2 linked regions of the Homo sapiens genome follow. The protein of the gene in region 1 purifies or fractionates together with the protein of each later gene. This does not show direct contact. Each region holds a gene or a part of one and is shown on either strand. Other genes may lie near its edges.

What was found. Proteins that work in one complex are often made in the same cells at the same time.
Region 2: the proteins of ERCC5 (region 1) and MNAT1 purify together in Homo sapiens (co-immunoprecipitation; 2 studies listed by BioGRID and IntAct, with this or other methods). This does not show direct contact.

The regions. Positions count from the first base shown.
Region 1 is NC_000013.11:102,870,030-102,876,524, forward strand, and holds the end of ERCC5 (DNA excision repair protein ERCC-5), read left to right. Parts: intron 1-2,168; coding exon 2,169-2,369; intron 2,370-3,229; coding exon 3,230-3,314; intron 3,315-5,277; coding exon 5,278-5,874; 3' UTR 5,875-5,966; downstream 5,967-6,495. Other genes in the region: BIVM-ERCC5 protein, read left to right, coding at 2,169-2,369, 3,230-3,314, 5,278-5,874. UniProt on the Homo sapiens protein: Single-stranded structure-specific DNA endonuclease involved in DNA excision repair. Makes the 3'incision in DNA nucleotide excision repair (NER).
Region 2 is NC_000014.9:60,737,748-60,744,778, forward strand, and holds part of MNAT1 (CDK-activating kinase assembly factor MAT1), read left to right. Parts: intron 1-7,031.

The DNA of each region.
Region 1 (6,495 bases):
TGAATACAGAGTAAAGAGCAGGAAGGATGGTGGGAAACCAGTAAAATCAGAATGTGGCCTCACTTTGTTTTCTGTTCTCCTCTTCTGAGGGCACCCTGGCTGGTGAATCATTCTTAGAGTGGGGCTGCATTGGGCCTGCAGGTTGAATTGAGCTGTAGTCACATTTGGTTTGGACTACACGGTGTATTCTTCTCTTGAGCTTTAATTTTCAATTGGCTACCAACATTTACCTTTGGGAGATTTTACACAAAATTATGGATTCTGTTGGGGGAAAAAGGAGAGCTGAAAATACTGGGCCTGAATTTCTGGATAGCCCCAAAATAGCTGGCATGGAGCAACAGCAGTTCCCCTCCCCTACCCCAAGGCCTTGGACTGGGCATGAATCCTTCAGTTTCATCACAGTTGCCTCCACTCCCCCAGCTCAGCTGATTGACAGACACCTTCCTCCTTTCATCTTTATGTGAAGTGCCAGGCCCTCCTGCTTGAAGGAGTAACCATAGCTTTGGCTTGATGAGCTCACAAGTGCACTGATTCTAACTGCCAGTCATGATTACAGTTTCAAAAACGAAAATCTGCAAGTAAAGTAGAGGAGAATTATCGGTATTCTCTCAGTGCACTCCTGGAAAGAATGTTGTAAAAGTAATGAAGAAAAATTATTTTTTCCTTTTTGCATTTTGTTGTTATAATACTTTGAAGACCGCAATTAGTAATTTCCAACGCTAGATGGCACTCCTGCATCGGTGAGGCGGACCCTGGCCCTGACAGCCGGTCTGAGTGGGTTCCTAATGCTGCACTAGCAAGCTTGTGAAGCGGGGGAGCCTGAGCTGCGGGCGTTTTTTCAGGTTCCATTGAGTACATAGATTGGTGAGGATTATGTTAGTAACTTTGATGGCATTTATTTTTTCCTAATTGTGTAAATGTTTCTGGTCAGTCGTCACTGCATTACAAACTACCTTCAGCCTTAGTGGCTTCACACAGCAGTAGTCACTGATTTTGCTCATGCCTCTGAAGCTCGCTCAGGCCTGGTGGGGGTGTCTTGTCTCTGTTCCATGTCGGCTAGGACAGCTCAGCTGGGCTAGGACCCCTTAAGATGGCTCGCGGGGCTGATGAGGTGGCTTCGGCCTCGGGGCCTGGGTGGACACTTGGTGAGCTTGGCTTCCTCATAGCATGTTGGAGCCAAGAGCAGGAGGTCCAGGGGACAGGAAGTGGCGAGGGCCTCCCCTAGGCCTGGCACGGCTTGAGTCACACTGGTCAGCCATGGCCGCCCTGCTCAAGAGGAGGCCACAGGGACCCCCTTCGTGATGGGAGGAGGGTCCAAGAGTGTGTCGCTGTCTTTATCCGGCCGATTTAGGCTTAGAATGGAAAACATTGAAAAATGAATAAAATATAAAGAAGAAAATGAATGGCTGTGTGCTCACGTAGAATATTGCCTAGCACACAGCGAAATAATAGTTGTTAGTGTTATTTATTTTAAGTATCTGTTTACTTTTCTCATATATGTGTTTTTTCCAAAACTGGAATCATACTTTAAGTAGAGTTCTATTATCTCTGTTTTTGTATATATTTATTTGTTTTACATACATATGTATTTATATATATATAAAATGTTAAATTTTAAAAACAGATACATGTATCTGTTTTTACAGATTTTTTAAACAAATTTAACATTTTCTTGGCATATTTACATTTTATTAAATATTCTTCGATCCATTATTGTATTTGATTTGAGGTAAATAATACAGATACATTACTTCCATTTTACTGCTGAGAAAGAGACCCAGAGAAGTTGTAACTTCTGTGGTATAATTATGAGTGTGGGCTCTAGAGGAAGACTGTACCAATTCCAGCTGTGAAATCTTGAGCCAGTTACTTATTTTTGAGTTCAGTTCCCTCCTCTGTGAGGTGAGGGTAACGATAGGGCATGGCTTGTGTGATGATTGGGCATGTGAAATATTTAACACAGTGCCAAGCACAGAGGAAGACTTCCATAAATGTTTGCCATCATTATACATTGTGGCTAATAGTACTAAAATTAATAAAATATTCTATATAGCATACAATTTGAGTTAGAACTTGAGTTTACATGTTCTAAGTTTAGTTCTTCATCCATAGTGTATGAACTATAATGTCTCATTGCTGTGTAAGTAATTGTTTCCTTTATTTTACAGAGAATGGTGGCATGAAGCTCAAAAAAATCCAAAGATAAGACCTAATCCTCATGACACCAAAGTGAAAAAAAAATTACGGACATTGCAACTCACCCCTGGCTTTCCTAACCCAGCTGTTGCCGAGGCCTACCTCAAACCCGTGGTGGATGACTCGAAGGGATCCTTTCTGTGGGGGAAACCTGATCTCGACAAAATTAGAGAATATCCTTTGCTTCTTAAAAGAGAAGGAAACACCTTGTCAAATATGTGTTTGGTTTAAAACTTATGGAAGAGAAACTTGGATCATTTTTTTCTTATATCCCGTTAATCCCATTTTCTTAATATCCCGCTCTCCTTTTCACTCTTTCTTCCCTCTCCTCAGTTGTTGTTTTTTGTTTGTTTGTTTGTTTTAAAGGAACAGTGTATCACTCTGTCACCCAGCCTGGAGTGCAGTGGTGCAATCATAGCTCACTGCAGCCACCACTTCCTGGGCTCAAGGAATCCTCCTGCCTCAGCCTCCTAAGTAGCACAAGCCACTGCATCTGGCCCCTCTCCTTAGTTTTAAAGAGGGTCTTTGTTTGAATAAGCAGTGATAAGCATTCATAGATATAACCACATACTTAAATATTATTGATTCTGAAAGAAGGAAAGATGACTAATCTTGTCCTTTTTATTACTGGTTGTCCTTTCCGTGTATATTTAAGTAATCATTTGGATAGATGTTTCAAAACTTGCACTAGAATTAATCCAACTACGTTTGATTTTTTCTCTTAATGAAATAGGCAAGATATCTGAAACTTGTTTTTATTCCAGTTAACCTTTTTTCATAGTCACAAGTCTTTGATGTCCTAAAGTGAGAGCTAAATATGTTTTATTTTATAGAATTGAAAAGAACATAGTGCCAGATGATTATGCTGGAGTCATTTATTTTGTTAGTACTTTCTTTTAGCACTCTAATCTTTATAAATAGGAAAATCTTAGGAGATACAGGGAATGGAATCAAGAATGGGTTCTTTGGACCTTTTTATTTGTCACTTGTTTAAATATCTTTCAAAATATTTATAAGTCTTAACTGCATGCATATTTTGTCAGCGGTATTTCGGCTGGAACAGAACGAAGACAGATGAATCTCTGTTTCCTGTATTAAAGCAACTCGATGCCCAGCAGGTAATCATGGTGGACCCTTCTCCTAAGTTCAGGATGAAGGGTAGGCTGTGGTTGACAGCTGTTAAAGACCAGTTAACTCTTATTTTGGGGCATAGAGCAGACATTTTGAAATTAGGATAATTTAGATGAGAGAATAGAAGAAAATAGAAAAAGAAAAGTTAGACTTTGGCTTCATTTTCTATGATCACTCTTAGGGCTGAACTTTGGAGTCCTTTCATATTCATTTTTTTCTTTGAAAAAACCAGTCTAATAACTGATTTCACACTAAGGTGTTTCTGATTAAATACATTACCCCTTGGGATTTACTTTCATTTTTTAACGAAAGGAAGTCTTCAAAGCAATTCTGATCATTTAAGTTTTTATAAGTACTAATATTTTTAAATTCTATAAACGAATCTTGAAAGGTAGAAGTTCAGTCATTATTGTGTATCAGTAGGAGAGGTTTTTGTGGGAAGGAGCCCTTTTGTATGACCTTTAGTTCCTCTAGGTACCTACTTCTTGCTTTATCTGTGAGTATGTTCTGACTCACACAAAACAAGCTTTCGCCCACACTAGAAACAACCCACAAAACATACATACAAATAAACCACTTAGCAGAAATGAGAATGTAGCTTTTGTGATAATATATTTAAATTAAACCCATTTTCATTAGGCTTGGATAATTTTGAAAAACATGAACAAAACTAAGACAGCATTTCTATGAGTTTCTCTTTGTTTTTTGGATGACTATCTACTGGAAACATTATAAACCAACCAAAAAGGAAAGCTATTTGTCTTAGTGTCTGGTGATTTCTTAATTTCAGATAAATTTTGTTGTAATATTTATCTCCTTTTTCATTCTAAAACTTAATGTGTTTATTTTTCCAAAATTAGAAAATGAAGAAAATGAATTAAAACTACTCATTAGTTACCTCCTCTAATACAGTTGTTAACATTTAGGTTAAAAAATTTTCCTGCATTTATTTGTGGCCATACTAAATGTAACTTAATAGATCTAATCCTCCCCCCCAACTTATTAGCATATTTTCTTCTATGTATTGTGTGGTTTTCTTAATTCCAGATGACTAGATTATATTTCATGAAAGATATTTAAATAATTAGTTCAGTTTACTTGTTAGACCTTTAATTTTCAAGTTTGTTATAGTAATGCTGTGATGAACATTAGGCATATAGCTTTACCCATATATTTTTTTTTTGAGACGGAGTCTCACTCTGTCTCCCAGGCTGGAGTGCAGTGGTGAGAACTCGGCTCACTGCAAGCTCCGCCTCCCGGGTTCACGCCATTCTCCTGCCTCAGCCTCCCGAGTAGCTGGGACTACAGGCGCCCGCCACCACGCCTGGCTAATGTTTTGTATTTTTTTAGTAGAGACGGGGTTTCACCGTGTAAGCCAGAATGGTCTCGATCTGACCTCGTGATCCACCCACCTCGGCCTCCCAGAGTGCTGGGGTTACAGGCGTGAGCCACCATGCCCGGCCAAAGAATATCTTCTTAAAAGTGAATTTACTGAATAAAAGGCATGAATATTTCTTACAGTTGCTAATATATACTGTGAACTTGCCTCTCAAAGGTATTGTATGATGATAATGTTTTTAAAAGAAAGATATAGTAGGACTTAGAAACAGGCCCCATGAAGTCGTGTTGCTCCTGAGGAAGATGAAATGTTTAGCTACAGAAAAATATTTAACGCTCTTTGAATATCTTAGGAAGAGATTTCTCATTTGAGATGTGGACTAAAGACTTAGTTGACAGAGATGGTACAAGTACTGCTTTAGGTATGATTTAGAAAGTGAAAATTACTGTCAGTAATTCACTGGGAGAGAACTGGGTTTTGGGAGATAATGAATTAATATTCTCTGACATAGTAATCCAATGTGAGTGATCAAGGTTGAGCTTGTTGATTTGGTTTAGAAACTTGACTTACTTGTCTGATTTATTATTATTATTCTTTTGTTATTTTTTTAGACACAGCTCCGAATTGATTCCTTCTTTAGATTAGCACAACAGGAGAAAGAAGATGCTAAACGTATTAAGAGCCAGAGACTAAACAGAGCTGTGACATGTATGCTAAGGAAAGAGAAAGAAGCAGCAGCCAGCGAAATAGAAGCAGTTTCTGTTGCCATGGAGAAAGAATTTGAGCTACTTGATAAGGCAAAAGGAAAAACCCAGAAGAGAGGCATAACAAATACCTTAGAAGAGTCATCAAGCCTGAAAAGAAAGAGGCTTTCAGATTCTAAAGGAAAGAATACATGCGGTGGATTTTTGGGGGAGACCTGCCTCTCAGAATCATCTGATGGATCTTCAAGTGAAGATGCTGAAAGTTCATCTTTAATGAATGTACAAAGGAGAACAGCTGCGAAAGAGCCAAAAACCAGTGCTTCAGATTCGCAGAACTCAGTGAAGGAAGCTCCCGTGAAGAATGGAGGTGCGACCACCAGCAGCTCTAGTGATAGTGATGACGATGGAGGGAAAGAGAAGATGGTCCTCGTGACCGCCAGATCTGTGTTTGGGAAGAAAAGAAGGAAACTAAGACGTGCGAGGGGAAGAAAAAGGAAAACCTAATTAAAAAATATGTATCCTCTATAATTAGTTATGACAGCCATTTGTAATGAATTTGTCGCAAAGACGTAATAAAATTAACTGGTGGCACGGTCTTTGTATTTAGTGTGTGGTTCCTAAAAACAAATGCTAAATCTGACATTTGTTTTTTAATGTTTTACTTTTCTAGTATTTTTTAGCTGAATATTTCAAGTATCATTGGATATTATCTTGTATTCACAGGCTTTGTCTTTTCATGTTTTCATTATCTTAACAATGTCTGATCCTTCCTGGTCACATGTTAAAAAAGCGAAAAAGATTTCTATTGATCAGCACTCACTCTCAATAGGCTTTCCCTCTGACATTCAGACGTAGCTGAGAAGAAATACGTGCATGTTTCTAATTCCACAATAGTGGCAGTTTTACACAACTGTTTAGCCCTGCTGCCCACGGCTTTGCATTTTCCCTCAGGTTCCACTTAAAAGCATAGCAGGAGGGAGCCTCACTGCTGGAACATATTTCAATATGTTTGCTGTGGTTTTAGCAAACAATTAGGAAACCTAAATGGGGTGCATCATTCTACCTGTGAACATTAAGTGTATGGGAACCTCTGTACCGTTATGTTTGGCTTTTAAACCAGACTTC
Region 2 (7,031 bases), on another chromosome or scaffold:
ATGTCAAGACAGGCATGGTTGTTCCTACCTGTAATCCTAGCTACTTGGGAGGCTGAGGAGGGAGGGTTCGAGACCAACTTGGACAACATAGGGAAACCCTATCCTTTTTTTTTTTTTTTGAGAAGGAGTCTCGCTCTGTCGCCCAGGCTAGAGTGCAGTGGCGCAATCTCGGCTCACTGCAAGCTCCGCCTCCCGGGTTCACGCCATTGTCCTGCCTCAGCCTCCCGAGTAGCTGGGACTACAGGCGCCCGCTACCACGCCCGGCTAATTTTTTTGTATTTTTAGTAGAGACGGGGTTTCAGCGTGTTAGCCAGGAGGGAAACCCTATCTTACAAAAAAAAAAAAAAAAAGATCTTGTCAATTATGTTACCAACAACTGTATGGAGATTCCTATTGCCACACAACTTTGCCTATATTGGCTAATATTATTTTTTAAAATCTTGCATTTTAAAAGATGTTTAAAAGCATCTTATCAGATGCTTTTCTGATAAGAAAAACATCTTGGATTTTTTTTTTTTTTTTTTTTGAGACGAAGTTTTGCTCTGTCACACAAGCTGGAGTGCCGTGGCATGATCTAGGCTCACTGCAACCTCCACCTCCCAGGTTCAAGTGATTCTCCTGCCTCAGACTCCCGAGTAGCTGGGACTACAGTCGCATGCCACCATGCCCGGCTAATTTTTGTATTTTTAGTAGAGACGGGGTTTCACTATGTTGGCCAGGCTGGTCTCGAACTACTGACTTCGTGATCCAGCCGCCTCGATCCTCCCAAAGTGCTGGGATTACAGGTGTGAGCCACTGCGCCCGGCCTGAGATGGAGTTTTGCTCTTGTTGCCCAGGCTGGAGTGCAATGGCGTGATAGCTCACCACAACCTCTGCCTCCCGGGTTCAAGCAGTTCTCCTGTCTCAGCCTTCCGAGTAGCTGGGATTACAGACATGCGCCACTACCTCTGGCTAATTTTGTAGTTTTAGTAGAGATGGGGTTTCTCCATGTTGGTCAGGCTGGTCTTGAACTCCCGACCTCAGGTGATCCACCCGCTTTGGCATCCCAAAGTGCTGAGATTACAGGCGTGAGCCACCGTGTCCAGCCTCATTTTGGCTCTTAATGAAAAATTTTTTGATAGTTTGTTGAGTTTTTATGGCATATATTTCATGGGATTGAATATAGGCATTTTTATAATATGCTTGTTAGTCTGAGAAGAGCAGGTATTATTTTGCTGAATGATTCTGGCTCGGTCTTAGGATGTTGTAATCAAGTTGTTGGCTAGGACTGCAGTCTAGATTTGACTGGGCCTGGAGTATCTGTTTCCAAGGTCACTCATGTGGCTCTTGTCAGGAGGCTTCAGTTCCTCCCCATGGACTCTTCCATAGGGCTACTTATGACGTGGCTTCTCCCAGAACTAGTGATATGAGCGGAGGTAAGGAAGATTGGAGAGATGGATGGGAGAAGAGAGAAAGGGAGGGAGGAAGGGAACTGGAAGCTGTAGAGCCTTTTAAAACCTAATGATAGAAGTGATATACCATCACCTCTGGTGTTTTGTAGTGTTATAATGTGGGAGAGTACACACAAGAGTGTGAATACCAAGAGTGTGAATATCATTGGGCTATCTTGAAGGCTGGCTTCCGCAGGATTTTATTAACTTATTTTTTTTTTTTTCATGTCCTCAAGTAGCAAAGACTTTTTGGAGGCAAGTGATAAAGTGAGTAGGAGTAGTGCTTCATAAAAGAGGAACTATAGGGTTATGGAAAAATTAACTAGGAGTTTTACTTATGGGAGAAAATACAGGAGCAGAGAGGAGAGAAAAGAGGTGAAACATTATTAAATACCTTTGTCTCTTAGCTGCTAGCAATTGAAGAAGCATATTTCCCTACTTATCAATTTAATCTAGCAAATGCACAAATGAATTGATTGTATGCATATAGAAGAAGATTGGATTTCATGTTCTTTTTTTAATTTTTTCTGTTCAAGGATGAACATTGTCTCAATTACAGAAAATGGTAATTTTTTTTCTTTATCAGGCCACCTATTTCAAGAAATGGGCCTTCCATTCTGAAGGCATATAGAATTAGATGGAGGCAGTGGTATCTAATTCTCATTTAACTACAGCCTTTAATAATTTAATTTCTGTCTGGGTGCAGTGGCTTACGCCTGTAATCCCAGCACTTTGGGAGGCTGAGGCGGGTGGATCACCTGAGGTCAGGAGTTCGAGACCATCCTGGCCAACATAGTGAAACCCCGTCTCTACTAAAAATACAATAATTAGCTGGGTGTGGTGGCATGGGCATGTAATCCCAGGTACTTGGGGAGGCTAAGGCAGGAGAATCACTTGAACCTGGGAGGCAGAGGTTGCAGTGAGCCGAGATCACACCACTGCACTCCAGCCTAGGCTACAGAGCAAGACTCCATCTTAAAAAAAAATTAATTTCTATCCCAACCATTCTTGGCAAAACCTGTCTCTGGAAATTTTATGTGCTAAATCTACTTTTTTCATCACGCACGAGACGCAAAGTACAAGATAAGCAAAATCAAGTACCTACCATCTTGATATATAAAGGCAATGTTTTGTGATAGTTACTTAACATCTTTCTCTTTCTTTTTTTCCCTTTTTTTTCTGTTCTCCTATTTCTCTCTCATTTACTGATGTTACTGGATAGTTTATCCTGAAGAGTCCGAATTTTGCTTATTGCATCTCTGTGATATTGTTAAATATGTTCTTCTGTTCTCAGTATTTCCTCTAAATTGTTAGTTATGTTTAAAAGTTTTATCAGATTAAGTTTGAATTTATTTGTTGATAAGAATAATAAGTGGTGTTAACTCATTTAATATACTGATCTTATTCAGTACCTTTGTGCAAATTGGGAAACAGAGCCCCCTCTGGGTAGAAAATTAGGAAAAGGCACTTATTTTAGGTGGAAGATTTAGAACAGGAACATTCTAGATATATTATTTTATAATTTTCTGTTGTGATAAGAGGATATACTCTATAAAATTTCAGTCTTTTGAAGTTTTCTGAAAGCTTGCTTATGGTCCAGCATATGGCCTGTCTTTGTGAACAATCAGTGTACATTTGAAAAGAATATACATTCTGTGGTTGTTGGGTGTAGTGTAGTATAAGTTATAAACGTGGTACATATTACCATACCCATCTTGGTTGATAGCATTACCAGATCTTCTGTATCTTTATTAATTTATTTTATCTACTCATCTTATGAATTACTCCACTATGATTATAGATTTGTCAGTTTTTCTTGTAAGTTTTGTCATACTTTATGCATTTTGGAACTCTCTTGTTGGGTACATATTTGGGATTGTTATGCCTTCCTAATACATTTCTCCTTTTATCATTATGAAATGGCCCTCTTTGTCTCTTGTAATATGCTTTTTCCTGAAGATTCTGTCTGATAATAATTTGGCACTGTCAGATTTCTTGTGCTTACTATTTGATAGTGTGCATTTTTCCGTTCATTTACTTTAAAAAAATTTTTTAACCCATGTAATATCAGTGGCACAATCATAAACTCCTGGGCTCAAATGATCCTCCTGCCTCATCCTCTTGAGTAGCTAGGACTACAGGTGCATGGCACCACACCTGGCTTATTTATTTATTTATGTATTTATTATTTTTATTTTTTGAGATGGAATCTCGCTCTGTTGCCCAGGCTGGAGTGCAGTGGCGCGATCTCAGCTCACGGCAAGCTCCGCCTCCCAGGTTCACACCATTCTCCTGCCTCAGCCTTCCGAGTAGCTGGGATTACAGGCACGGGCCACCACGTCTGGCTAATTTTTTGTATTTTTAATAGAGACAGGGTTTCACTGTGTTAGCCAGGATGGTCTCGATCTCCTGACCTCGTGATCCTCCTGCCTCGGCCTCCCAAAGTGCTGGGATTACAGGCGTGAGCCACTGCGCCTGGGGTTTTTTTTTTTTTTTTTTTTTTAATTTTTAGTAGAGATGGGGTCTTGCTATGTTTCCCAAGCTGGTCTCAAACGCCTGAGCGCAAGTGATCCTCCTGCCTGGGCCTCCCAAAATGTAGGTATTACAAGAGTGAGCTGCTGTACCTGGCCCCCATCCATTTACTTTCAACCAATTTGTGTCTGTCTCTGGGAGACTCTACTTCACTGGGTCTTGCCATTTTATCTGGATTGACAATCTCTGCCTTTTAATTGGTGTACTAGTCCATTATATCTAATTATTGATATCATTGGGTTTAAGTCTACATGTTTCCTTGTATTCCTTTGGTTTTTTTGTTGTTCTTTTGCTCCTTTCCTGCCTTATTTTGAAATAATTGGATTTTTTAAAGTATTGGCCTATTAGCCGGTAGCTTTTTATTTTTTATTTATTTTTATTTTTTTTTAAATAAGAGACAGGATCTCACTCTATCACCCAGGCTGGAGTGTGGTGGCTTTATCACAGGTCACTGCAACCTTGAACTCAGGGGTTCAAGGGATCCTTCCACTTCAGCCACCCCAGAATTTGGGACTACAGGTGTGCACTGCCACAGCCAGCTAATTTTTAATTTTTTTTTGTAGAGCTAGTCTCTGACTGTGTTGCCCAGGCTGGTCTCAAACTCCTGGCCTCAAGTGATCTACCCACCTCAGCCTCCCAAAGTTCTGGGATTACAGTCACCTTTTATGGCCAACAATTAACTCCTCATTGTTATTATTATTATTAGTGGTTTCTTTCAGCATATCTTTTATTTGTATTTGTGATTTGTTGTTATTTTTGCTTTAAACAGTCAGTTGTCTTTAAGGAAAGGTATGTTTTTAAAAAACTACTTCACTGAATATAATTCACGTACCATAAAATTCACACATTTAAAGTGTACGTTTCAATGGCTTTTAGTATATTCTCAGAGATGTACATATTACCCCACAAAGATACCTCTCACCACTTAGCCGTCACACTCCTCAACTCCCCCCTCCCATAGCACTAGGCAACCAGTTATCTACTTTCTGACTATGTAGATTTTCCTATTCTGGACCTTTCATATAAATGGAATCATACAGTATGTGGTTCTCTGGACTGGCTTCTTTTACATAGTGTAATATTTTCTAGGTTCATCCATGTTGTAGCATGTATGAGTACAACATTTCTTTTTATTGCTGAATATTATTCCATTGTATGGCTATACTACATTTTATCCATTCATCAGTTGAAGAACATTTGAGTCATTTCTACTTTTTGGCTGTTATGAATAATGCTGCTGTGAACATTCATGTACAAGTTTTCGTATGGACAAATGTTTTTGTTTCTCTCATGTATATATTTAGGAGTAGAATTATTGGATCATATGGTAACTCTTTGTTTAGTTTGTTTTCCAATGTGGCTGTACCATCTTATAGCAGTGAATGAGGGCTCTAGTCTCTCTATGTAGTTGCCAATGCTTGTTATAGTTGTCTTTTGATTATAGCCATTCTAGTGGGTATGAAGTGGTGAAATATAGTCTCTTATTTTCACCTATTTACTATCTTTGATATTGCCCTTCTTCCTTTGGATCTGATTTTATAGTCATATTGATTTCCATCTGCCTAAAGAACATTCTTTAGCATTTCTTTTTTTTTTTGAGACGGAGTCTTGCTCTGTCGCCCAGGCTGGAGTACAATGGCACAATCTCGGCTCACTGCAGCCTCCGCCTCCCAGGTTCAAGCGATTCTCCTGCCTCAGCCTCTTGAGTAACTGGGATTACAGGTGTGTGCCACCATGCCCGGCTAATTTTTGTATTTTCAGTAGAGATGGAGTTTCACCATGTTGGCCAGGCTGGCCTTGAACTCCTGACCTCAGGTGATTCGCCTGCCTCAGCCTCTCAAAGTGCTGAGATTACAGGCGTGAGCCACTGCGCCCAGCTCCTTAGCATTTCTTATAGTGTAGGTGTGTTGGTGAAGAATATACTCTGATTTTGTTTATAAGAAAGTGTTTTTATTTCACCCTAGTGTTTGAAGGATATTTTTGCTGAATATAGAATTATGGGTTGGCATTTCTTTGACCATACAAAAGATATCATTTCATTGTTCTCTAGTGTTTCTGTTGAGAAGTTAATTTTACTCATATCTCTTTCTCCCTGTTCTTTAGATTATATATTTTCTATTGATCTATCTTCAGGTTCACTGTTGCCTGTCTGCCATTTCTAATCTCATCCAATAGATTTTTCATTTCTTATTGTATTGTTTTGGTCGTAGAGTTTTCATTTTTATCTTTTTTATAGTTTTCATTTCTCTGATATTTCCCATCTATATACTCATCAAGAATATATTTTTCTTTAGTTCTTTGAATGCATTTTCCTTTAATTTTTTGAACATATTTTCCATTAATTCCTTTAAAATATTTATGATAGTCAATCTTAAGGTTTCTGTCTGTAAGAGTTAACTCCTTGGCTATCTCAGGGTTGGTTTCTTTTTTGTTTGTGTTTTTGAGAGAGCCTCACTCTGTTGCCCATGCTGGAGTGCAGTGGCATGATCTTGGCTCACTGCAACCTCCACCTCTTAGGTTCAAGTGATTCTCCTGCATCAGCCTCCCAAGTAGCTGGGATTACAGGTGCCTGCTACCATGCCTGGCTAATTTTTGTATTTTTAGTAGAGATGGGGTTTTGCCCTGTTGGCCAGGCTGGTCCCAAGCTCTTGACCTCAAGTGATCTGCGTGCCTCGGCCTCCCAAAGTGCGGGGATTACAGGTGTGAGCCATCACGCCCAGCCATCTCAGGGTTGGTTTCTATTGACTGCTTTTATTTGACTGTAGGTTACAGTTTTCTGCTTATTTATTTTTGCATGTTTACTACTTTTTAATTGTAGGTGGTATATTATAGAGATTCTGGATTTTGTATTTTTGTGAAAAGTGTTGATTTTAAAAATTCTTGCAGGTAGTTCAGTTACTGGCAGATAACTTTGAACTTGTGTAGGCTTGGTTTTACTCTTTGCTAGAATGATATGTGGAGAACCCATTGTTTCCTTACTTTAGTGTAACTCAACCTCACATTTTTAATCCCTTCAAAAACTTGTTGGGGCTTGATTTTAGTCTTTGTTAGGGTGCACCTAGAATATGC